Regions from separate parts of the Homo sapiens genome. Here all the other regions are linked to region 1. The links come from fine-mapping of genetic effects on gene expression. A gene starts in region 1. Each other region holds a variant in brackets. All regions are shown on one strand. Distances are between the middles of the regions.

Region 1 (8,179 bases):
GCAGTGGCTGGGGTGGGAATGTGTGTGGTGCTGCCCCCTAGAGGACATGCAGCAATCAATGCCTGGAGGCCTTTTGGGTGTCACAATTGGGAAGGGGGATAACTAGCTGGGTAGAAGCCAGGGAAGCTGCTAAACATCCTGCAATCCACAGGACAGCCCTGAAACAAAGAATGATCCAGCCCCAAATGTCAAAAGTGTTGAGTTTGAGAAACTCTGCCCTTGAGGGATGTAGCAGTATTTACACAGAAGCTAGAGCTCAGAGAGGCAAACCAACCAGTCCGAGGTCACACAGCAGAAAAGTTCAACTCCCCAGCTGATGCTGTCTCTCCAGGGTGGCTTCAGAAAAAGGGATACCAAATGGGAGTCAAAGTCCAGGCCTGCCAATAGCTGCCTTCATGCCCGCTCTTTCCAGATTGTGTGAGGGGTTGGGGTGGAGCTTGGGAACAGCAGCGGTCGCCCACCACAGGGATCTGTTTCCATTGGGTTTGGCCCCCCTGCCATCAAGGCAGTAAATGTTCTCTGTTCCTGTGGATGACTCAGGCTTCAGTTCAGCCCATTGCCCCTCCTCATCTGATGAACCCAGAAGCCTGGGCTAGAAGGGAGAGGGCCTCTTGAATCACATGAGTGACTAAAGCCACATGCAGAAAAACAAGTTCTTGATGAATCCCCCTACCATGTGACTTTGGCATGTTCCCAATCAGTGACAAGATACCTCAGGACAGGCAGGCAGGGAGCTATGCCTTTAGGGCATTTAGGAATGCCCTAAGGCAGCCTGTCATGCGGCTGCTACCTCTAGGAAATGGACACCACCATCCCCATTACACAGATGAAAAAACTGAGGCTGAGGTGACACAGCTACAACCTGGGAGGCCAAGATCTGAATCCCAATCTATGTTTTAACATAGAAACTTGTCTCAGGGGGCCCCCAAAAAGTGGCTGAAAGCTTCAAAAGACGGTTCTCAAAGCGCAAAACCTTCAAAAAACTGGCAAGGATGGAGCTGACACAGCAGAGAATGAAAAGCTTCCAGGTTTTCACTAATGATAAGAGAGATTTCCCAGTTTTTCAGAGGACTTTGCTCAGAGAAACTATAGGGGTACCGGATGTGGGAAGTGGTGTGGTCCTTTTGGGGTCCAGCGGGCCTGGATCTACATCCCTGCTTGGCTCTTGACTGTGACCTTAGGCGTGGGACCTCACTTTGCTGAGCCCTGGTTTCCTCATCTGTCAAATGGGCTTAAGGCCCTCTGCCTGATATGGGCGTGATAGGAGAGGCCAGAAGAGGGCGCGTGGACGATGATGGCCGGGCCTCGGTGGCAGTATCTATTCTCGTTTTTGCCAGCTCACAGACCTGGTGGGAGGTGGCATGGAGAATTCCAGACTTCCTCCAGTTGCCATGTTGGTGAAAACTGTCTTCATGCCAAAGAGGCAAACTCACTTACACGCTAACAGGCTCAAACAAGAAACTAAGATTTGGCAGCATTTGAAAACAGTTAACAAAAAATAAAAAAAGGAAGGAAAAAAAAAAGACAATTTAGCTCAGCTCTGGAATCAAGGGAAACTTCACTCTATATAAAGATGCCACAGGTCCAGGAAATAGCTTCCCACCGCCTGGCTAAGGGCTGAATAACTGGCTGCCCAGCCAATAACAATACAGACTCACACAGCACACCCTTTCTTGTGGAGAGCGCGGAGTGGGTTCCCGGCTATCTCCTTTCAGAATTTCACAGGCTATTCACGGAAGGCATGCAGATCTACTTTGTAAGAATTAGTTCTTAAAAAAAAAAGATCTGAAGACGACTTCCAGGGAGGCCAAGGAGCTTAATTTAGCCAGCCAACGCCCTTTTCTATTCATTGTTCTATACTTCTTTGTTAGGATTTTTTCCCTCCCTCTTACTCTTTTTCCCTTCCTGGTTAACTTCTCTGCAGCCAGGCTCCGCCACTGCCCACTTCTCACCGCCAGAGACACTATAGCCCCCTTCCCTGCTGTAATGAGGCCCTCCCCAAGGCCTCATGTGGGCCCATCACCCCACATCCCCTTTATCTCCACCTAGAACCTGCGAGGTGGTCCCAGGGCCTCCTGAATCTGCAGACGTGTCCCCTAGGTTGCTGCGGAAGCCACTTTCCACCTGCAGGTCACCGTCAGCCCCAGGCACCCCTGCTGGAGGGAGGGAAGCCCGAATGCAGCTCTATGTTCCAGGACCTGCAACCTCTGAGCCTCAGCCTTCCTATCTGCAAAACGACGCTACTGTCCCATTTTCTCAAGTCCTTGCCAGCTCCAAACAAGATTCCCATGTTCCAGAGGGAGATGCCAGGAGAAAACTTTCGTACATTTTAAAACAGAAGTTACTGGAGAGAGGGGGCAGGGGATGTTTTTAACCCTTTAAAGGCGTAGCCACTCAAATGATCCATTCCCAGAGATCTCCTCCATCGCCCAGGCCGGCTCTTGCCAAAGAACGGAGTCAAATTCGGCGAACCCTAGAGGGGCTACCTGTGGCTGGGGACTGCGGGTCTGCGCGCCTCTGGACAAGGAGGGGCAAGGCGGGCGGCCTGAGAACAGGCACTTCTGTCTCTCCCGCTTTCTGTCTCAGACCCCTCACCGGCTGGAGCCAGACTTTTCCACAGATGAGCAGGACGGGAGTTGGGGGGACACGGAGAAGACAGAAAGGGGTAGAGGAGCCGCAGGGAGGCGAGTAGGGGGGCGAGGCGGGAGGAAGGGATGGAGGGGGAGAACGAGGCAAAAGCGGGGAGGGGAGGGGAGGGAGGGAGGAGGAGTCGGGAGGGACCCGGGCAGCGCCGCCGCAGAGCCGAGGGGAGAGCAGGGGAGGAGGGGACGGGAAGCGCTGGAGGCAGAAGTTTTCCAAGCCGGGGGCCCTCGGTCGCCCCCGACGGGGCGCGGGCTCAAGGGGGCGTGGGGGCCGCGCCGCACTCACATAATGCTTGTTGGGCACCCGCCGCTTCTGCACGTCTAGCACCTTCACCTCCACGATGCTGCGCCGCGGCGGCATGGCCGCTCCTCCGCCCGCAGCGGGCCGAGCGCGGGTGCGGGTGGCGCGGGGTGCAGGGAGCGCTGGGGGCGCGCCGCCGCGGGCAGGGAACCTGGAGCTGAGCGCAATCGCAGCCGGGGCCGAGCACGAGCCGCCGCCGCCACCGCCGCCGCCCTTCGCTCGGCGCGCACTCCAGCCGGGCCCAGCCGCCGCCGCCCGCCCCCGGCCCGCCCCCCGCACCGCCCCCCGCACCGCCCCCCGCACCGCCCCCCGCGCCGCCGGCCCGCCCCCCTTAAAGGGCCCGGCCCCGACCCCCGCCCACCGCGCGCGAACCCCGCCGGCCACGTCCGGCCCCCGCCCGGCCTTTGTCCCGGTGCTGAGCCGCCGCGCCGGGGGAGGGGACTGGACTGACCCCGTCGCCCGTTCACTGATTGACGTATCGATTCATTCCAGCACTCTCGCTCCGGCAGCCGCCATCCACCGCCAGTTTGGAGAGCCGGACACCCGGGTTCGAATCCCGGCTTTGCCGCTTTTCCACTCTGTGCCCTCGGCAAGTTGCTTAACCTCTCTGGGTTGGGTCTCTTCGTCTATAATATGAGCCTAGTAGTACAAGCACCATGTTTGTCTTTTTGTGTCTGGCTTATTTCACTCGGCATAATGTCCTCAAGGCTCATCCATGTTGTAGCACGTGTCAGTAGTACCGCCTGCCTGCCGGTGCTGCGCCCGGGATTAAGTGCATGTGAAGCCATTCCGCAGTGCAGTCCATGGTATGAGTGCTGGCGTTCCTAAAGCCACCCCAAGCCCTGGTGATTCAGGAGGAGCAAGAGACCCGTGACCAGGTTCCCCCAGCCTCAGTCTGGGACATGGGGAGTGAGGGAGAGAAAAACTGCAACAAATGCGCATACGTGCAATGTAATTGCCATGGAAGCAACAAAAGGGGATAAAAGGGTGGTGACTATGTGTGAGGGGCAGCTGGGTGCTTGTTAGCAAGGCCATCGATTTCCAGTTGCGGAGCACTTAACTGCTCGCTGGGCCCCGTGGCCCCTGCTTTTCACAAATGCTGTCTTTGCATCCTCAGGCAGACTCTAGGAGGAAAAGGTGTTTTTACAGAGGACGGCCTCCAGACATTTGGACATTTCCAATGAGGCCTGAGGACCCTCTGACTTGGGAACTGTACTTCAGAAGAATGTGCCTTACAGGAATTACATCAGTGAAGGTCCAGAGTCAGGGAGCCGGTGGATGGAGCCCGTCACTGCCTGGCTCTAGGTGGATCTCACACGTTGAAGCTGCCGTGGCTGGGGCAGCTCCTCGTTTCTTCATCTAGTGCCTCCTAGCACTGGCTGGGCACTGAGTCACTTTCAGGAGATGTTGGCTGAATGAATGGATAAATGAATATATAATGCATGGATGGGAGGTTTAGGCTCCTGGCCAGTGTTTTCACAGCCAGTAAGTGGGGGCTCTTTTCAACAAACCGTACGACTCTTCTCCATGCCACGACAGAGCTACTTCCCACCCCGGTCCAGGATCAGCCTTTGGAAAAGGGTGGGCTTATCCAGGGTAGGACGGCTCTCAGCCTCGGCCAGGCCACGTGGATGATTTGGGCTGATTCACTTTGGATCCGCCCCTCCATTTGCTCCTCTGACTTCCTTGCCAGACTTTACCATCCTGCTCCAGCCCCAGAGGCTGGCCTGTGTGGATTTCACTGACAGCTCTCTGTCCTGGTCTTCCTGTTTGGCTTGGCCAGTGGAAGGGCCTGGCAGGAGATTGAGGGCAAGAGGAGAGAGGGAGGTCTGGGTATTTAATCCCTAAGCCCCTCCTCCCCGATTGTTTTTACCAAAGGTGCCCTTTCTCACATGGTCTCTCTCAGGGTTCCTGAAGCCACTTTTCTGCTCAGGACAGTGACAGTCTTGCTGTTGCAAGCCCTGGGTACTACGCCATCCTCGGTGCTTCCTTAGCCCCGCCCACACCCGTATACATTGACCCTTTACTAAACTGTCTTCATGGACCCAGCTTGAGGGTGGCATCTGTTCGGTGCCAGGACCCTCACTCATGTAATTCCTGTAAGGCACATTCTTCTGAAGTACAGTCCCAAGCCAGAGGGTCCTGAGGCCTCATTGGAAATGTCCAAAGAAGTGAAGGTCTGCTTTTCCGTCCCTGCCACATCGTGCATTGCCTTATTAGGAGCCAAGCCTTCCTAAGAAGGCAGAAGCTAGAGGCCCTCTCTGAATCAGCCAGCTTCCTGGGTTTTTCCGGAGAGGCAGAGAGACCTGCCCCCAGCCACACCATGGGTGGCAGAGGTGGGTCCTGCTGGCTGTGTCCGTCTCCTCTGTCTGGGGAAGACAAAGGTCCCCCCACAACCACCAGTAGCAGAAGATGCTATCCCTGCATCTTTACGTATCTTTCCTTTGTTTTACTTTTTTATTGTAGTAAAAAATACATAACATAAAATTTAACATTTCAACCATGTTTAAAGCATACAGTTGAGTGGCATTAAGTACACTCACATTGTTGTGCAACTGTCACCACCATCCCTCTCCAGAACTTTCTCATCTTCCTAAACTGGAGCTCTGTCCCTATTAAACACTGAGTCCCCCCCCACTGCCCCCCAACCTCCTCCAGGCCTTGGCAACCATTGTTCTACTTTCCATCTCTATGAGTTTGACTATGCTAGGTACTTCATATGAGTGGAAACACACAATGTTTGTCTTTTTGTGTCTGGCTTATTTCACTCGGCATAATGTCCTCAAAGCTCATCCATGTTGTAGCATGTGTCAGAATTTCCTTTTTATGGCTGAATAATATTCCATTATATGTATATAGCACTTTTTCTTTATCCATTCATCTGTCAACAGTCACTTGGGTTGTTTTCATCTTTTGGCTATTCTGAATAATGCTGCTGTGAACATTGGTATAAAAATATCTGTTCAAGTCCCTGGTTTCAATTCTTTTGTGCATATACCAAGAAATGGAATTGCTGGATCATGTGATACTTCTATGTTTAATTTTTTTTTGAGGAGCCCCTAAACTGTCTTCCACAGGGGCTGTGGCATTTCGCATTCCCTCAGCAATGCACAAAGGTTCCAATTTCTCTACATCCTTGCCAACACTTGTTATTATCTGTTTTGTTTGTTTGTTTTGTTTTGTTTTGTTTTGTTTGAGAAAGAGTCTTGCTCTGTCTCCCAGGCTGGAGTGCAGTGACGCAATCTCAGCTCACTGTAACCCCTGCCTCCTGGGTTCAAGCAGTTCTCCTGTCTCAGCCTCCCGAGTAGCTGGGACTATAGGCGCCCGCCATGCCTGGCTAATTTTTGTATTTTTAGTAGAGATGGGGTTTCACCCTATTGGTCAGGCTGGTCTCAAACTCCTGACCTCAGGTGATCCACCCCCCTCAACCTCCCAAAGTGCTGGGATTACAGGCATGAGCCACCGCCCCCGGCCTTGTTTTGTTTTTTAAGAGACAGGGTCTCATCCTGTCACCCAGGCTGGAGTGCAGTGATTTTGATCATGGCTTACTGCAGCCTTGATCTCCTGGGCTCAAGGGATCCTCTGCCTCCGCCTCCCTGGTAGCTGGGACTATAGGCACCCACCAGCACATCTGGCTATTTTTAAAATTTTCCTTTTGTAGAGACAGAATCTCACTATGTTGACCAGTCTGGTTTTGGACTTCTGGCCTCAAGTGATCTTCCTGCATTGGCCTCCCAAAGTGCTGGGATTACAGGCATGAGCCACTGTGTCTGGCCTGTTTTTATTTCTTTATTCGTTCATTTGTTTTTGATAATAACCATTCTAATGGATGTGAAATGGAATCTCATTGTGGTTTCGATTTGCATTCCTCTAATGATGAGTGATGTTCAGCATCTTTTCATGTGCTTGTTGGCCATTTGTTTATCTTCTTTGGAGAAGTGTCTATTCAAGTCCTTTGTGCATTTTAAAATTGTGTTATTGGTTTTTTTCTTCTTACCTTTCTATATCACCCATTTACCTCCTAGACAACTTGGGCTTTTCTGAGTGTCCACCATAGTTTTTGGAGAACTGAATTGTGGGCTGGTGATGCAGTTTAGGCTGGCTGTTCAGACTGGAAAGATCCATTTAGGCTCTGCTTGGGAGAACTGCAGATTATCTGCTGATAAAAATCTCAACCCAGATGGTCACTACAATTCACTGGAACTGGACTAGTTCCTTGTCACAAACACAAAACACTTCTGCAAATTCGAGTTCATCAGGGAGCCCAAACCTAAGGGAGAACTCGAATGGAAGAGAAATCCCACTTGGAATTCAAATAGGATTCCAAGTGGGATTTCTCTTCCATTCGAGTTCTCCCTTAGGTTTGGACAAGGATTCCTTTTAGACTCTATATAGTCTAAAAAGAGGAGGGACCCTTCGTTCCAGAAATCCCTGCCCCTTTCTTAGAAAACTCGTGAATAATCCACCCCTTGTTTAGCACGTGATCAAGAAATAACCATAAATATACTTAGACTCGAGCATCCCATGCCAGGGCTCTGCCTATGGGGTAGCCATTCTTTATTCCTTTACTATCTTAATCAACTTGCTTTCACTTTATTCTATGGACTTGCCCCAAATTATTTCTTGCATGAGGTCCAAGAACCCTCTCTTGAGGTTTTAATCGAGACCTTTTCCGGTAACATCACCGACATGCCTTGGCATAAGCTGCTCATTTCCCCACCTTGTCTGCTGGTGAACTCTCATTCAGCCTTCAAAGTCCATACTGAATGTCACTAATATCACTTCCTGTAGGAAGCCCTGACTCCCAGATGGGTAATTGTCTCCCCCCCACCCAGCTGCCACTGTGCCTTGTCCCAGCTGTCATTCTGGGCTGTGATTGTTTTCTTAATATCCAACTCCTTTGCCAGACTCCAAGCTCCCAAGGAGCCGGAATGGCCTTATTTGTCTCAAGTTTCCCACCTTTGGCACAGAATTAGCAAAGAGAGGCCCCAAAGAGATGCTGTGGGCTGAATGAACTCATCTCTATCTCATGAACTCTAACCTAAGTCCTCAGGGACATTAATTGAACCTCCAGGGCCAGGCTTGCTGTTGCCCCTGCCCATTCCCCAGACCTCTTCACGCCATTTCCCTGTTTCACACTGTTCTGGGAGCACTGACACTTCCCCTGATTGAGGTGTGGAGTGTAGAAGGTGGAAAAGGAGGTAAATATTCCACCTTAGCTGACTTCATTCCTCTA
Region 2 (8,179 bases), 570 kb after region 1:
AGCCGAGTGTGGTGGCAGGCGCCTGTAATCCCAACTACTCGGGAGGCTGAGGCGGGAGAATCGCTTGAACCCGGGAGGCAGAGGTTGCAGTGAGCCGAGATCGTGCCATCGCACTCCAGCCTGGGTGACGAGAGTGAGACTTCGTCTAAAAAAAAAAAAAAAAAAGCGATTCCTGGCCGGCTGCAGTGGCTCACGCCTGTAATCCCAGCACTTTGGGAGGCCAAGGTGGGCGGATCACAAGGTCAGGAGTTCGACACCAGCCTGGCCAACATAGTGAAACCTCTTCTCTACTAAAAATACAAAAATTAGCTGGGGATGGTGGCGCGTGCCTGTAATTCCAGCTACTCAGGAGGCTGAAGCAGGAGAATTGCTTGAACCCAGGAAGTGGAGGTTGTGGTGAGCTGAGATCGTGCCACTGCACTCCAGCCTGGACAACAGAACGAGACTCCTTCTCAAAAAAAAAAAAAAAAAAAAGAAAAGAAAAGAAAGGGATTCCCTAGATCCCAATGTACCATGCAGAAAGGATAGCAGTATGTTACCAAATTTCACTCTCCCAGATTGGTAGTTGGAGGTTGGTTGGGCTTGTTTACCTTAACCCTGCCCTCCTCCCCACACCACTGCCCACCAATGAAAGAAATTCAAATTCATACACAGTTGACCTTTGAATAACGTGGAAGTTAGAGGTTCCGATCCCCTGCACAGTTGAAAATCCATTTATAACTTTTGAATCCCCCCAGATTTAATTACTAATAGCCTACTGTTGATCAGGAGCTTTACCAATAACATAAACAGTCAATTAACACATAATTTGTATACGTATTATATCCCGTGTTCCTATAATAAAGGAAGGTAGAGAAAAGAAAATGTTAAGAAAATCATAAGGAAGAGAAAATATGTTTACTATTATATTAAGTGGAAGTGGATGAGCATAAAGGTCTTCATCCTTGTTGTCTTCACACTGAGTAGGCTGAGGAGGAGGAAGAAGAGGGCTTGGTCCTGCTGTCTCAGGTGTGGTAGAGGCAGAAGAGGTGGAGGAGGTGGAAAGGGAGGTGGAGGCAGGACAGGCAGGCATATGAGCAGGCCCAGGCATCCAAGTCGACCTGCATGGTTCAAACCCATGTTCAATGGTCAGCTGGATTTTGAGTAGGAACTAAAGGCAGTGTGTATTCTGCTTCATTCCCCTGTCTGTCTTCCTCCTTCCCTGACCACCCTGTCGAAATAATGCCCCGTCAAGCCACTCTCTATTCCTTCTCCTTGCTTGACTTCCTTCATAACAGTTATCACCTGACATTCTATTATGTAAGCTCTGTGAGGATAGTGACATTTCATTTTTCGCCATTGTATTTCTGAGGCCTAGAACTTAGTAGGTGCTCATTAAATATTTCTTTAGTAAGTGAAGAATGGTTTGAATACTCAGACATTTGCATATTTTTTTGTTGTTTGCTTTTGTCTGAGCTAAGTGATTCTCAAAACTTTATTTGGCATATGAATTACCGTATCATATATAAGACCCTTTATACAGAACTTTGTGAGCTATATAAGAAAATTTTAAAGATAAATCTATGCTATTTTTCTTTTCTTTTTTTAGAGACAGGGTCTCACTCTGTTGCCCAGGCTGGAGTGCAGTGATGTAACTATAGCACTGCAGCCTTGAACTCCCAGGCTCAAGGGATGCTCCCACCTCAGCCTCCTGGGTAGCTGTGGCTACAAGTGCAAGTCAGCAAACACAGTGAATTTTTAAAATTTTTTTATAGAGACGGGTTCTCACTGTGTTGCCCAGACTGGTCATCAACTCCTGGCTTCGAGTGATCCTTATCCTCCCAAAGTGCGGGATTATAGGCATGAGCCACCGCACCCAACCTGTTTTTCACTTTTAACCCTGAAGTCGGCTGGGCGAGGTGGCTCACGTCTGTAATCCCAGCACTTTGGGAGGCCGAGGCGGGCACATCACGAGGTCAGGAGATGGAGACCATCCTGGCTAACACGGTGAAAACCCATCTCTACTAAAAATACAAAAAATGAGCTGGGCGTGGTGGCGGGCGCCTGTAGTCCCAGCTACTCGGGAGGCTGAGGCAGGAGAATGGGTGAACTCGGGAGGCGGAGCTTGCAGCAAGCCGAGATTGCACCACTGCAGTCTGGACTGGGCGAAAGAGCGAGACTCCATCTCAAAAAAAAAAAAACCCTGAAGTAAGATGTGACACCATTTTACTTCCTTTATAGTTTAGTCTGTAATACAGAGGAATACCTCATTATTTAGATTCTGAAGTAAACTGGGGAGAAGGTAAATGCCCATTCTGTTAAGTTCCACAGTAGGATGTGTTACATATTTTGGTGGTGATGGGGATTAGAAAAGGGGACCTTACATGTTATAGTCTAATAGGAAGATGATAAGCTACAATCAAACCTTGCCTGTACCAGTAAAAATGGGTGTGTCATGTAGGTTGTGGGTCTTAACATTTGGAGAATGGATAAAATAAGACACATTTTCCCTGAGGTTGGAAGTTGTGATGATGATAAATTGAGATTAAGTGAAAACGCTTTGAAGCGAAGATATCATGAATTCAGGAAATCTTGGATACTTGGAAAGATAATCAGGTAATGAGAGAAAAGTCAGAGACTTACTGTGACAAAGCCTCACTGCTTTGTGATATGTCTCAAGATGAAGGCAGGCTACGTCCTGGGAAACATTTTGTTATCAGACATGCTGCTGTTAACACAATGTATATGGAAAGTTTGGTGTGAATGCAGTAGATTTAAGTTTTGCTAGTGTACTTTTTCCATGCTAATTGAAAATGGTCATGTTCCAACATGATTTCACCGCTTCGTTGTTTCTCTCCCATCCTTCTTTTAGTTGGCTGATTGCAATTCTGGCCCAACTCAACCCTCTCTTTGGACCGCAATTGAAAAATGAAACCATCTGGTATCTGAAGTATCATTGGCCTTGAGGAAGAAGACATGCTCTACAGTGCTCAGTCTTTGAGGTGACTATGCTTGTGACCTTTCTTATCAGTATGGTCAGGCAGTCAGAGTTTGCCTTGACTTTTTCTCACATTTTATGGCCATTTTAACACGTGGCAAGGGCAAGCTGCTGAATGCAAACACGATCTGAAGAGCAGAAATAAAATTGGAACTTAAGCCTTAGCTTACCTAAATCTCATTAAGATTCTTTTTAGATTCTGCTATCACCCTGCCTTTTTAAATAAATACAGTTTAATTTACAAAATTAAGCTTGCATGCACTCTTTCAGACGCAGATCAAAAAAGTAACTGTTTATACTTGGCATTGTGAGATCCAGCAACTTTAAAAAGTGGCTGGCAGATTTAAAATTGAGCAGGTTTCTTTCCAGCAGTAGTCAGCCATCCGGACAGAACCGTTCCTGTGATGGTGTTACACTGCTGGGAGAGGAATGTCTTGTCTTCATCCGGTTGCCTGCGCCACTGTTCTGGTGGCGTCTGGCACTGGTGCAAGACAGAGCTGTGCTTCCCCGAGAGTGTGCTAAGCATTCACTTTGGCTGCTTAGTTCTAGTCTGGGAGCAGACAGAGAAAACAAAATTAAGGTTTTTGAATGCTTTGGATGGAGAAAGGTGCCTGCGTCCGTTTGTTTTGTGTTGCTATAAAGGAATACATGAGACTGGGTAATTTATATTTGGCTCGCAGTTCTGCAGGCTGTATAAACATGACACCCGTATCTGTTTGGCTTCTGGTGAGGCCTCAGGAGGTTTTTACTTATGGCAGAAAGCAAAAGGGGGGCAGCCGTGTCATATGGCCAGAGAGGGAGCAAGAGAGAGAGAAGGAGGTGCCAGGCTCCTTTAAACAAGCAGCTCTTGTGTGCACTAACAACTACTTCACTCGTTACTATGGGGAGGTATATTAGCCCATTTTCACGCTGCTGATAAAGACATACCCAAGACTGGGTAATTTATAAAGAAAGAGAGGTTTAATGGACTCACAGTTCCTCGTGGCTGGGGAGGCCTCACAATAATGGCGGAGGATGAAAGGCAGTTCTTACATGGTAGCAGCAAGAGAGAATCAGAACCAAGCAAAAGGGGTCTCCCCTTATAAAACCATCAGATCTCGTGAGACTTATTCACTACCATGAGAACAGTATGGGGGAACTGCCCCCATGATTCAGTTATCTCCCACCAGGTCCCTCCCACAACACGTGGAAATTATGGAAGCTACAATTCAAGATGAGATTTGGGTGGGGACACAGCCAAACCATATCAGGAGGGTACCAAGCCATTCATGAGGAATCCACCCCCATGACCCAAACACCTCCCACCAGGCCCCACCTCCATCATTGGGGATCACATTTCAACATGAGATTTGGAGGGGACATATAATCCAAGCCATATCAGTGCCTTTTGAAAATCAGTCTTTGGTCGTGCGCGGTGGCTCACGCCTGTAATCCCAGCACTTTGGGAGGCTGAGGCAGGTGGATCAC[G/A]AGGTCACGAGATCGAGACCACGGTGAAACCCATCTCTACTAAAAATACAAAAAATTAGCTGGGCACAGTGGTGGGCGCATGTAGTCCCAGCTACTCGGGAGGCTGAGGCAGGAGAATGGCTTGAACCCAGGAGGCAGAGCTTGCAGTGAGGCGAGATCGCGCCACTGCACTCCAGCCTGGGCGACAGAGCAAGACTCCGTCTCAGAAAAAGGAAAATCAGTCTTAAGGTTGCAGCTTCTATTTGTCCTGAGGGTCAGAGAGGTTAGTAGTGGTATAGTGGAAAGATTTATTCACTGGCCGAGAGTCAGGAAACCTCTTATTTAATCTGTTCGTTGTTTTCATTATTTTGTTAAATGGAAGTTAGCTTTAAATGCCTTGACTAGATTTAGGTTCAAGTTTTTTGGCTCTTTAGGTGTTACTGTAAACTGTGTATTGCCTCCCATCTGGAGAAACAGGATGTCTGGCTCTGGCTCTCCTATGTTTAGTAAGGCTGATGTGATCACTGGGTTCAGGTAATGACAGCCTGGTTCCTTCATTTGTAAAGTCCTTTTTATCAAGTGATTTTATCCATTGATGATCATAGCCTGAATTAATCATTTTAGTTGAAATGGCAAATGGTGATTTGCTGCTGCTGCTGTTTTTTGTTTTTGTTTTTGTTTTTAATTGAGACAGAATCTCATTCTTGTCACCTAGGCTGGAGTACAGTTGCACAATCACGGCTAACTGCAGTCTTGACCTCCTGGGATTAAGCAATCCTCCTGCCCCAGCCTCCCAAGTAGCTGGAATTACAGTCATGAGCCACCATACCCTAACTTTTTTGTTTTTGAAAGAGAGTCTCTGTCACCCAGCTGGAATGCAGTGGCACCATCATGGCTTACTGCAGCCTCACACTCCTGGCTCAAGTGATCCTCCTGCCTCAGCCTCCTGAGTAGCTGGGACTACAGGCACACACCACCGTGCCTGGCTAATTTTTAAATTTTGAATAGAGACAAGGTCTTACTATGTGGTCCATGTTTTGGCTAATTTTTAAAATTTTATTTATTTTTTATAGAGAGAGAGGGTCTCTTTCTATGGCCCAGGCTGGAGTGCAGTGGTGTGATCATAGCTCACTGCTGCCTTGAATTCCTGGGCTCCCGAGATCGACCTGTCTTAGCCTCCCTAACAGCTGCAGGCACGCAGCACCACGTGTGACTTTTGTTTTGTTTTGTGGAAATGAGGTCTCACCATCTTGCCTAAGTTGGTCTCAAACTCCTGGGCTCAAGTGATCCTCCCACTTTGGCCTTCCAGAGTGTTGTGATTATGGCCATCAGCCACCGTGCCTGGCCGCAAATGATGATTTTTCCAGTTCTATTTTTATTTATTTATTTATTTATTCATTTTGAGACAGAGTCTTGCTCTATCACCCAGTCTAGAGTGCAGTGGCACGATCTCAACTCACTGCAACCTCTGCCTCCTGAATTCAAGTGATTCTTCTGCCTCAGGCTCCCAAGTAGCTGGGACTACAGGTGTGTGCTACCACACCCAGCCAATTTTTGGTTACTTTTAGTAGAGATGGGTTTTCACCATGTTGGCCAGGCTGGTCTCAAACTCCTGACCTCAGGTGATCCACCCGCCTAGGCCTCCCAAAATACTGGGATTATAGGCGTAAGCCACCATTCCCGTCTGATTTTTCAATTGTATTATTACCTCTGCATTTGATGAGCTGAAATGCTTCTATAAAGATAACTTTCCTGCCAGGCACAGTGGCTCATGCCTGTAATCCCACTACTTTGGGATGCTGAGGCAGGCAGATCACTTGAGCCCAGGAGTTCGAGACCAGCTTGGGCAATATTGTGAAACCTTGTCTCTACAAAAAATACAAAAATTAGCCAGGCAAGGTGGTGCACACCTGTAGTTCCAGCTATTCAGGAGGTTGAGGTGGGAGGAGAACTTGAGCCTGGGAGGTGGAAGTTGTAGTGAGCCAAGATCGCACCACTGCACTCCAGCCTGGGTGACAAAGCAAGACTCTGTCTCAAAAAACAAACAAACAAAAAACTTTTCCTCATCAACAGGATGATCTAATAGACTTGAAATATAGATCATGGGGCCGGGCACGGTGGCTCACCCCTCTAATCCCAGCACTTTGGGAGGCAAGGCGAGTGGGTCATGAGGTCAGGAGATCGAGACCATCATGGCTAACACGGTGAAACCCCTTCTCTGCTAACAATACAAAAAAAATTAGCCAGGCATGGTGGTGGGCGCCTGTAGTCCCAGCGACTTGGGAAGCTGAGGTAGGAGAATGGCATGAACCCAGGAGGTGGAGCTTGCAGTGAGCGGAGATTGCGCCACTGCATTCCAGCCTGGGCGACAGAGCAAGACTCCGTCTCAAAAAAAAAAAAAAAAAAAGAAAGAAATACAGATCATACAAAAATACGGGAAAAGCAGAATACAGGTTTAATTCTTTTAATTTTCATAGTAAGATGTTGGTGGCCAAGTTCCAGGGTATTCAATGAGATTTTTTTTAAATTTTAAATAATTATATTTTTTACCCTTTATATGGTTGTGTTTTGTTGTTGTTGTTTTTTGTTGTTGTTGTTTTTTGTCTGTGAGAACCTGTTTAGGATGGCTTCTATGTACTTTTGGTGTTAGTTTTTGGTAGTTTCCTTACTTTCTGGCAACATCAAAATGTCCAGGCCCCTCTTCTATATTTTCTGTCCGAGACTTAGATTTAGCTGTTCTTTGAATTGGTTTCTGAATTCCCCACTAAAAGGATGTCTGGTTTACTAACAGTTCTCAGGCCCATTTGACTCTGGTTCTGTTCAGTGGAAATGGCATTTAAGAATCACGATCGGAGTGCTAGGTGCGTTTGTTGCTGCCTGGGGTAATTAAGCATAATTGCTTCTAAGCCTTTTCAATGGAAAGAACCAGGAAGTAATGTATTTTTCAGATGAAAAATAATCTTAAGTTTACATTAGTATTTTCTCTTCAAATATAACATTACAGAGTTTTTATTTTATTTTATTTTTTTCTTTTTTCTTTTTTTTTTTTTTTGAGACAGAATCTCGCTCTGACGCCAGGCTGGAGTGCGGTGGCGTGATCTGGGCTCACTGCAACCTCTGCCTCCTGGGTTCAAGCGATTCTCCTGCCTCAGCCTCCCAAGTAGCTGGGATTACAGGTGTGCGCCACCACGCCTGGCTAATTTTTGTGTTTTTAGTAGAGACGGGGTTTCACCATGTTGGTCAGGCTGGTCTCGAACTCTTGACCTCGTGATCCACCCACCTCAGCCTCCCAAAGTGCTAGGATTACAGGTGTGAGCCACTGTGCCTGGCATTCTTTTTTTTTTTTTTTTTTTTTAAAGACAGAGTCCTGCTCTGTTGCCAAGGCTGGAGTGCAGTGGCAGTATCTTGGCTCACTGAAACCTCCACCTCCCAGGTTCAGGTAATTCTGCCTAAACCTCCTGAGTAGCTGGGACTATAGGCACACACCACCACACCCAGCTAATTTTTGTGTTTTTAGTAGAGATAGGGTTTCGCCATGTTGGCCAGGCTGGTCTCGAACTCCTGACCTCAAGTGATCTGCCTGTCTCGGCCTACCAAAGTGCTCGGATTACAGGTATGAGCCACCATGCCTGGCCTGAAAATTACTGTTCCTTAATAACAGTAACTTTTATTATTCTACAATGTATATAAAATACTTTTTTTTTTTTTTTTTTTTTTTTTTTGGAGACATGGTCTCTGTCACCCAGGCTGGAGTGC
Region 3 (8,179 bases), 43 kb before region 1:
CACTTTCTAGTTTATTTTAATTTTTAAATTTCTAAAATTTAATTTTTAATTGACACATAATAATTGTATATATTCATGGGGTACATTAGTAATGTTGATTCACATAATATGTAGTGATCAGATCAGCATATTTACACATTCATCATCTCAAACATGTATCATTTATTTGTGTTAGAAATATTCAATGTTTTCTTTCCAGCTATCTGAAACTATATAATACGCTATTGTTAACTATAGTCATCCCACAGTACTATAAAACACTAGAACTGGCCAGGCGCGGTGGCTCACACCTGTAACCCCAGCACTCTGAGAGGCCGAGGTGGGTGGATGGCCTGAGGTCAGGAGATCGAGACCAGCCTGACTAACAGTGAAACCCCCTCTCCACTAAAAATACAAAAAAATTAGCTGGGCGTGGTGGCGGGCACCTGTAATCCCAGCTACTAGGGAGACTGAGGCAGGAGAATTGCTTGAACCTGGGAGGTGGAGGTTGCAGCGAGCCGAGACCGCGCCATTGCACTACAGCCTGGACAACAAGAGCAAAACTCTGTCTCAAAACAAAAACAAAACCAAAAACACTCAAAACACTAGAACTTATTCCTCCTATTTAGCTGTGATTTTGTTTCCTTTTACAAATCTCTCCCTATCTCCCCACTTCCCCCTACCCTCCCCAGCCTCTAGTTATCCTCTGTGCTACTTTTCACTTTATGAGATCAACTTTTTTAGCTTCCACATGTAAGTGAGAACTTTATGTTCCTGGCTTATTTCACTTAACATAATGTCCTCCAGTGGCATCTATGTTGCTGCAAATGACAGGATTTCCTTATTTTTGATGGCTGAATAGTATTCAATTGTGTATGCATACCACATTTTCTTTTTCTTTTTCTTTTCTTTTCTTTATTTTGAGACAGAATTTCGCTCTTGTTGCCCAGGCTGGAGTGCAATGGCACGATCTTGGCTCACTGCAGCCTCCGCCTCCTGGGTTCAAGCGATTCTCCTGCCTCAGCCTCCCCGGTAGCTGAGATTACAGGCATGGGTCACCACACCTGGCTAATTTTTGTATTTTTAGTACAGACGGGGTTTCACCATCTTGGTCAGGCTAGTCTTGAACTCCTGACCTCAGGTGATCCACCTGCCCCGGCCTCCCAAAGTGCTGGGATTACAGGCATGAGCCACTGTGCCCGGCCCATACCACAATTTCTTTATCCATTCATCTGCTGATGGGTACTTAGGCTGATTCCACACCTTGGCTGCTGTGACTAGAGCTGCAATCAACATGGGATGTATTATCTCTTAGATATACTGATTTCCTTTCCTTTGGATAAATGCCTAGTGGTGGGATTGCTGAATCATATGGAAGTTCTCTTTGCAGTGTTTTGAGGAACCTCTACATTGTTTCCCATGGTGGCTATACTAGTTTACGTTCCCACCAACTGTGTGTAAGAGTTCCCTTTTCTCTACATCCTTGCCAGTATTTTAAACATGTGGTTTTATTTGTGGTTTTGAGTCATTGTCCCCTGTTCTGTTGCCTGGTGAGGTGGAAATGCTTGGTCCACTGTCATTCAGAGACAGGTGAGGCCACAGTGGGGACTTGCTGGAAAAGGCAGCCTTCTTTTTGTGAATCCAAGAGCTCTTCAATGCCAGCACATAGTAGATGCTCAATAAAAACGGGCTGAACTTGATGTCGATGAAGAGAGGTTGTGAGTGGCGAGGACAAGGGGCTATGCTCTGTACTTTCCAGTCAATTTTTCTGAGAACCTAAAACTTCTCTAAAAACTAAAGTTTACTGATTAAAAAAAAATTGGCTGAACCAATGAACGCAACTGAGCAAACGCTTTGGGAGGCAACTTCAGGAGATGTTTGCTAAGTAACTCTGAGGAATAATATTCACATTACTAATACTAAATAATAATTAGTAATCACAACTAACACGTATATAACAGTTCACAGTGAACATGTCCTCTCATATACGATTTCATGTGACCTTGACAGTAACTCTGTGACATAAATGTTACATTCCCCTTGTCACAGATGAGGTAACTGAGAAGCAGAGAGGGCAGTGAACTTGCCTGAAGTCACACAGCTAAGTGGTGTGTCCAGCCAGTCCATGCATCTTTGTCTAAATTCCATTCTTTTTGCCTAAGACCACTCTTTGAGGCAGCTTCAGAGTGTCACGTGAACACAAAAGTCAGCCTGAGATGAGGTAAGTTTAATATTCTGTGCACATGTGAACAGCATGCTTTCTTTTCGAAAGCAGAGCCATTAATCAGTCTCAGCTGTGGAGTATGTTAGAGATTTATAGGTTTTTGCCTAACACTATCTACTTTTTCCCTTCTCAATTTTATTTGTTAAGACAATGAAACACCATTAAAGGGAACTTTTTTTTTTTTAAAGAATGCACCAGTAATCTGTCCACCCTAACATGACTATTTCCAATCTCCGGGTTCCTTTGGAGTCCCTGCCTGAATGTACATGTCAGCCAATGAGTCCCTGCCACTGCTGTGTTTTTCAGTCCTCAGAGGGGTCTCTACTGCCTGGTCTTAAGAAGCTGCTCTCTTGCCCTTTGTCCTGACTTGATTTTACCCAGATCAGCATGGCCCAAGGAGCTGAAAGGCCTCCCTTTGTTTTATTTGTTGGAGGTGGCAGATCTGGGTTTAAATACTGCATAGTCTAACCACAGACATGACTGCTGGGGACCCAACAGCCCTGGGGTTCAATCCTGATGCTTCCTCATGCCAGCTGTGTGTCTTTGGCCAGACACTTCATCCCTGAGCCTGTTTGGCCGTCTGCAGGATGAGGGACGCAGCCTGCTCCGCGGCGGGGCTGGGTAAATGAGTGCTATGTGGAAACTCTGGGGAGCACACCAGATGCTCAGCAAGAAATCCCCGCTCCTTACACTCTGCCCATATTGAATATGTTATTTTGAAAGTTATTTGGGGATAACTTTTAGTAGTCTGTAAGGCTGTGTGGTTTTTTTTTTTTAATCGTGTTAAATATACACAAGAGAAGATTTACCATTTCAACCACACTTGGGTGTACAGTTCAGTGGCATTCAGCACATTCACAATGTTGTGTAAACATCACCACCATCCATCTCTGGAACCTCTTCATCATCCAAAACTGAAACTGTGACTCCCCCCTCTCCCTCCCCCTGGGCCCTGGCAACCACTACTCTGCTTTCTGCCTCTATGAATCTGACTGCTGTAGCTACCTCCAATAAGTGGATGACACAGTACTTGCCCTTTTGGGACTGGCATATTTCACTTAGCATAAGGTCCTCAAGCTCCATCCATTTTATAGCATGTGGCAGAATTTCCTTCTTTTTTAAGGCTGAATAATATTTGATTGTGAGGCTGTGTTTTAAGGTTGGCAAAAAACCCCTCAGGACTGCCCGGGTGGCCCCGTGGCTGTAGCAGGGCTGTCTGCTGGCACTTTCTGCCATCATGGAGGTGTTCTACATCTTGCTGTCCAATCCAGTGGCCACTAGCCTCCTGGTAGCTATTGAGCAGGTGAAATGCTGCTCCTGCAACTCAGGAGCTCAATTTAAAAATTTTCTTTAATTGACTTGAATTTACATTTAAATACCCTCATGTGACGAGCAGCTGCCATCCCGGACAGTGCAGGGCTGGACTATCACAATATCCTCCTATTTAAACCACATCCAATTTTATTTCGTTTTCTTCATCACTGTGTCCAATGTCAACGGCCATCTGTGAGTTTGCTAGTTGCAAAGACTAGGACTCAGGATAAGATGCTGGGGGATTAGAGCCCTGCAAGCTTTCCTTGCCGAGCTGGTCTTGGTGTGTCCAGGTTTACGGCCACCAATTGCATCTATGCAGAGAACTGTAACACTAGGCATCCAAAGGCCTTGAAGTAGGTTCTCCAAGGGACCAGGC[C/T]CAGGCTGTCTGCAGCAGCAGGAGCAGAGGCATGCTCCTCAAAGCCTAACCCATGTCATCCTTGGTAATGAGAAAACCCACTACCCGCGCTCCCCCCAGATAACAAAAGAAGTGGCGCTCAGGGTGAGGAGGACTGGAAACTGAAGAGGAAGATGAGTCATTTGGGGAGTAGGAAGGGAGAAGGAGTCACATCAAGTTGCCACATCACAGGCTTCCAAGAAGAAAGAGAGAACACTCCATCAGCAGTTTTCAAGACATCAGCTTGCGGTAGAGGGAATGCGAGACACGCTGTCCAAAGAACACGCCATGGAAGCTGGCCACCACACGTGGTTTGCGTTAGCAGCAGCCATTGAGGCTGGACTTGGGAGGGGTTTACCCCCTCAATATCACAAAACCCCCAAGTCCCAGCGGAGCCGGAGCAGGAAGTGGAGAAAGGCCTGGGGCCATCATGCGCAGCTGCAGGCTGGCAGAAAGCCACAAGGTCCTGGGGCAGGGCTTTCAGGGCCCTGAACACAACGGTGTCCCTGGGCCTAGTCTACCATCTGTGGTTTGTTGTCTTTGAGGATTCTGGCCCCTCCACGAGCTGGTCTAAATATCAATGTGTCTGGTGTCCTGATGGACGTGCTGCACGGAGGCTGCCACCACCTCCGGTCTGTCCGCTTCTCTCCATACTTACTGCTCCCCCTAAGTCCAGGCCTGTATTTTCTCAGTTCAACCCCCTTACTACTGTTGGCCCTCTCTTCTGCCCCACTACCTCCTCACTGGTACACGGTAAGCACCTGTTAGATATTTGTGCAAAGAACAAATGAGTAAATGAATGAATGAATGAATGAAAAAACAAATGAGAAAAAGTGGTTAACTGGTTTGGTCAGCCACTCTCTGGGAAAGGAAAAATTACATACCAGGTGGCAGCAACAGGGCCTGGACCTGAGTTTAGCTGCAACTGCCCAAGATAATCATGCCTCTTTCTATTTTAGAAATAAAGAATTGCTAACTGTGTGGAAAAAGGCAACTACGGTATTTTCCCAGTGACACACCTTCCATATGGTAATAGCTTTTAGTGGGAAGGGAAAACTATTCCATTTAAGTATGCACAACACGTTGGAGGCATACTCCAATTCCAGAAGATAATGTCTGGGAGAAAAAGTGTGTCTGAGGATGGAGTAAAGGCAGTATTTGGATAAATATGGTTGGTGGAGTCTTGGGCCAGATGTTGGCTGGGATCTTGCTGGGAAGGCTTCCCGGCCAGGCAATGCCTGCCTAGGGAGTGAAAACTCTTCAGTTCTGCCATCCCCTAGACCTGTCCTCAGAAAAGCTGGAAGAAAACCCTCCCTTCCCTTTGGCCTCTGCAGTGGAGCATGGGGGCTTATGGGCAGATAGTCTTAAAAAGTACACTTGGGGCTGTTAAACTCCCAAGAGGGCCGAGGTGGAAGGACCAGGGTCTTAGAAGGAGACAGGTCAAGGCCGGGCGCAGTGGCTCACGCCTGTAATCCCAGCACTTTGGGAGGCTGAGGCGGGTGGATTGCTTGAGGCCAGGAGTTCAATACTGGCCTGACCAACACGGCAAAACCCCATCTCTACTAAAAATACAAAAATTAGCCGGGCATGGTAGCGCGTGCCTGTAATCCCAGCTACTCCGGAGGCTGAGGTGGGGGAATCGTTTGAACCCGGGAAGCGGAGGTGGCCGTGAGCCGAGATCGCGCCACTGCACTCCAGAGCGAGACTCCATCTTAAAAAAAAAAAAAAAAAAAAAAAAAAAGAAGGGGATGGGTCAGTCCTAGCTCAATGGAAACTGGAAACAAGCGGTTTTTGCTGCATGACTTGGGACAGTCTCTGGAGAGACAAAGGCATAGATGGAGATGCAGCCTCCACCTGTGATTTGAGGCGTCCAAGAACTGCTCGAGCCGTAAGCCCCTGAGCCTAGCAGCAACGCTCTGGCACAGCGTGCGGAGCAGGAGAGGAGCCAGAAAAGCTTCTCTGGATCTCTGCAGCATGAACTTCCCCGTAGGGAGTGTTCCTTCTTACAGATGAGGCTGGCATTTCTCCCGAGGGCTCCTTCACGGGCAGAGTGACTCAGCTGGTTCTGTGCCCCCCTGCCAATGTTGGAATTCTGGAAGATGCCCAGCTAAGACTCCTGCTCCATTGCACCTCTGCACCTTTGCACATGAGGTGTCCTCTGCATGCAATGCCCTCCCCCATTCGGTGGAGGGGCCACTCCTTATTCATTGTCAAGACCCTGCTCAGATGTCACCTCCTCCAGCAAGTGAGCCCTGTCTGAGCTCCCTGGCTAGGAGGGAGGTCCCTCTGTGAACACCTGGATTTCTCTCTATCTGAAAGAACATGTGCCTATTCCCACTACACTGGAAGCTTATGGAAAGCAGAGATCCATCTGGGTCCCTTGTGGCAGCTCGAGGTCTAGGTTAGCAAATGTTTAACTGCGCCTTCTGTGAGGGAAGCCCTGGCTCCAGTGATGACCATGACCCTTGGCCTGGGGGACACAATGAACCAGTGGGAACTCAGAAGACAAAGGTTGCACGGTACAGTGTAGAGGGGCTCATGTTTTGGTCAGAACTGCCCTCTGTGGATAGACTCTGCCTGTATCTTAGAGGGAGGAGCCAAATGGGCCTTAAAAAGGGGCAGCCATAGGCAGGACTCTATGTGGGTAAATCTATCTTTCAATAGGCAGATTGAAAGGCAATCCCGGGGCCCAAGGAGGCAGGGAGGTTAGGAGTGCAAGTTTCAGATCCAGCCACACCTGGGCTTGAATCCCAGCCATGCTGCTTTCTGGGCATGTGACTCTGTCTTTCTGAGCTTCAGTTTCCCCATCTGTGAAATGGATACAATACTGACCTCATGCCTGTGAGGACAGAATGAGATGGCATATAAGATGGGCATCTGGCACATTCCAGTTAGTGACTGCCGATATTGTTACTATGTGGCTCAACCCAGCCACATTTCTGCTAGGCACTACCCTCAGCTCTCTGGGCACTCCAGTCATCCCCAGTGCTCTGCCTGGATGCCAATTTCCTTTGCCACACTGATGGACTCCCCAGAGTAGTCCCAAGCCAGGGCAGAAAGGGAGAATCAGAGAGGCTGGGTGACCATCCCAAGGCCGCACAGCTGGTAAGACAGAGGGAAGGACCCGACACCAGGTATTCTTATTTCAAGCCCAGGGCTCTATCCCATTTCCTGCACCCTCAGGTGAATGAGACGTGTGGTCAGATGTCAAGTAAGAGCATCAGGCATCACTATCAGGCCCTTCTAAGGTAAGCAAGTCAGGAAACCAAGTTGGAAGGTGAATCTTCATAAAGGGGAACTTCCAGCCGGGCGCGGTGGCTCAGGCCTGTAATCCCAGCACTTTGGGAGGCCGAGGTGGGTGGGTGACTTGAGTCCAGGAGTTTGAGACCAGTCGGGGCAACAAAGCAAGACTCCGTCTCTACAAAAATTTAAAAAATTAGTCAGGCGTGGTGGCACACACCTGTAGTCTCAGCTACTCGGGAGGCTAAGGTGGGAGGATCACTTGAACCTAGGAGTTTGGGGCTGCAAGTGAGCTGTGATGGCGCCACTGCACTCCAGCCTGAGTGACAAAGTGAGACCCTGTCTCTACTTTTTTTTTTTTTTGAGACGGAGTTTCGCTCTTGTTGCCTAAGCTGGAGTGCAGTGCACGATCTTGGCTTACTGTAACCTCTGCCTCCCGGGTTCAAATGATTCTCCTGCCTCAGCCTCCTGAGTAGCTGGGATTACAGGTGCCCACAACCACGCCCAGCTAGTTTTTGTATTTTTAGTAGAGACGGGGTTTCACTATCTTGGCCAGGCTGGTATCGAACTCCTGACCTTGTGATCCGCCCACCTCGGCCTCCCAAAGTGCTGGGATTACAGGCGTGAGCCACTGCGCCCGGCCTCTACTTTTTTTTTTTTTTTTTTTAAAAAGGACCTTTTCATAGAGACTGTGAGTCTCTCTCTCTCTCTCTCTTTTTTTTTTTTTTTTTTTTTTTTTTTTTTGATATAGGGTCTTGCTCTGTTGCCTAGGCTAGAGTGCAGTGGCACAATCTCAGCTCACTGCAGCCTCGACCTGCTAGGCTCAAGGGATCCTCCCACCTCAGCCTCCCAAGTAGCCTGGGCTACAGGTGCGCACCGTCACACCTGGCTAATTTCTAAATTTTTTGTAGAGATGGGATCTTGTTTTGTTGGCCAGACTGGTCTTGAATTTCTGGGCTTAAGTGATCTGTCTGCCTCAGCCTCTCAAAGTGGTGGGATTACAGGTGTGAGCCATCACACTCGGTGAC

The links. PIP is the estimated chance that this variant, and not a neighbour inherited with it, causes the effect.
Region 2: its variant is the best candidate, but not a certain one, in a credible set for the expression of SH3PXD2B in hippocampus (GTEx, PIP 0.85).
Region 3: its variant is the best candidate, but not a certain one, in a credible set for the expression of SH3PXD2B in whole blood (INTERVAL, PIP 0.50).

What each region holds. Positions count from the first base shown.
Region 1 is chr5:172,451,350-172,459,528 of GRCh38, forward strand. SH3PXD2B (SH3 and PX domains 2B) reads right to left here and starts at 3,176. Exons shown (of 13, transcript NM_001017995.3): 1 at 2,929-3,176. The coding sequence starts at 3,003. RefSeq lists an enhancer at 2,142-2,663.
Region 2 is chr5:173,017,387-173,025,565 of GRCh38, forward strand. ATP6V0E1 (ATPase H+ transporting V0 subunit e1) reads left to right here. Exons shown (of 4, transcript NM_003945.4): 3 at 2,852-2,981. The coding sequence ends at 2,945. It overlaps SNORA74B (small nucleolar RNA, H/ACA box 74B), which reads left to right and starts at 3,340; the gene lies at 3,340-3,543. RefSeq lists an enhancer at 65-608 and a silencer at 2,840-3,134. The variant G/A (reference allele first, on the strand shown) is at 4,445.
Region 3 is chr5:172,408,832-172,417,010 of GRCh38, forward strand. The region is part of intron 2 of SH3PXD2B (SH3 and PX domains 2B); the gene reads right to left. Among named protein-coding and RNA genes, the nearest start is that of SH3PXD2B, 42 kb to the right of the region's middle. RefSeq lists an enhancer at 3,870-4,371. The variant C/T (reference allele first, on the strand shown) is at 3,894.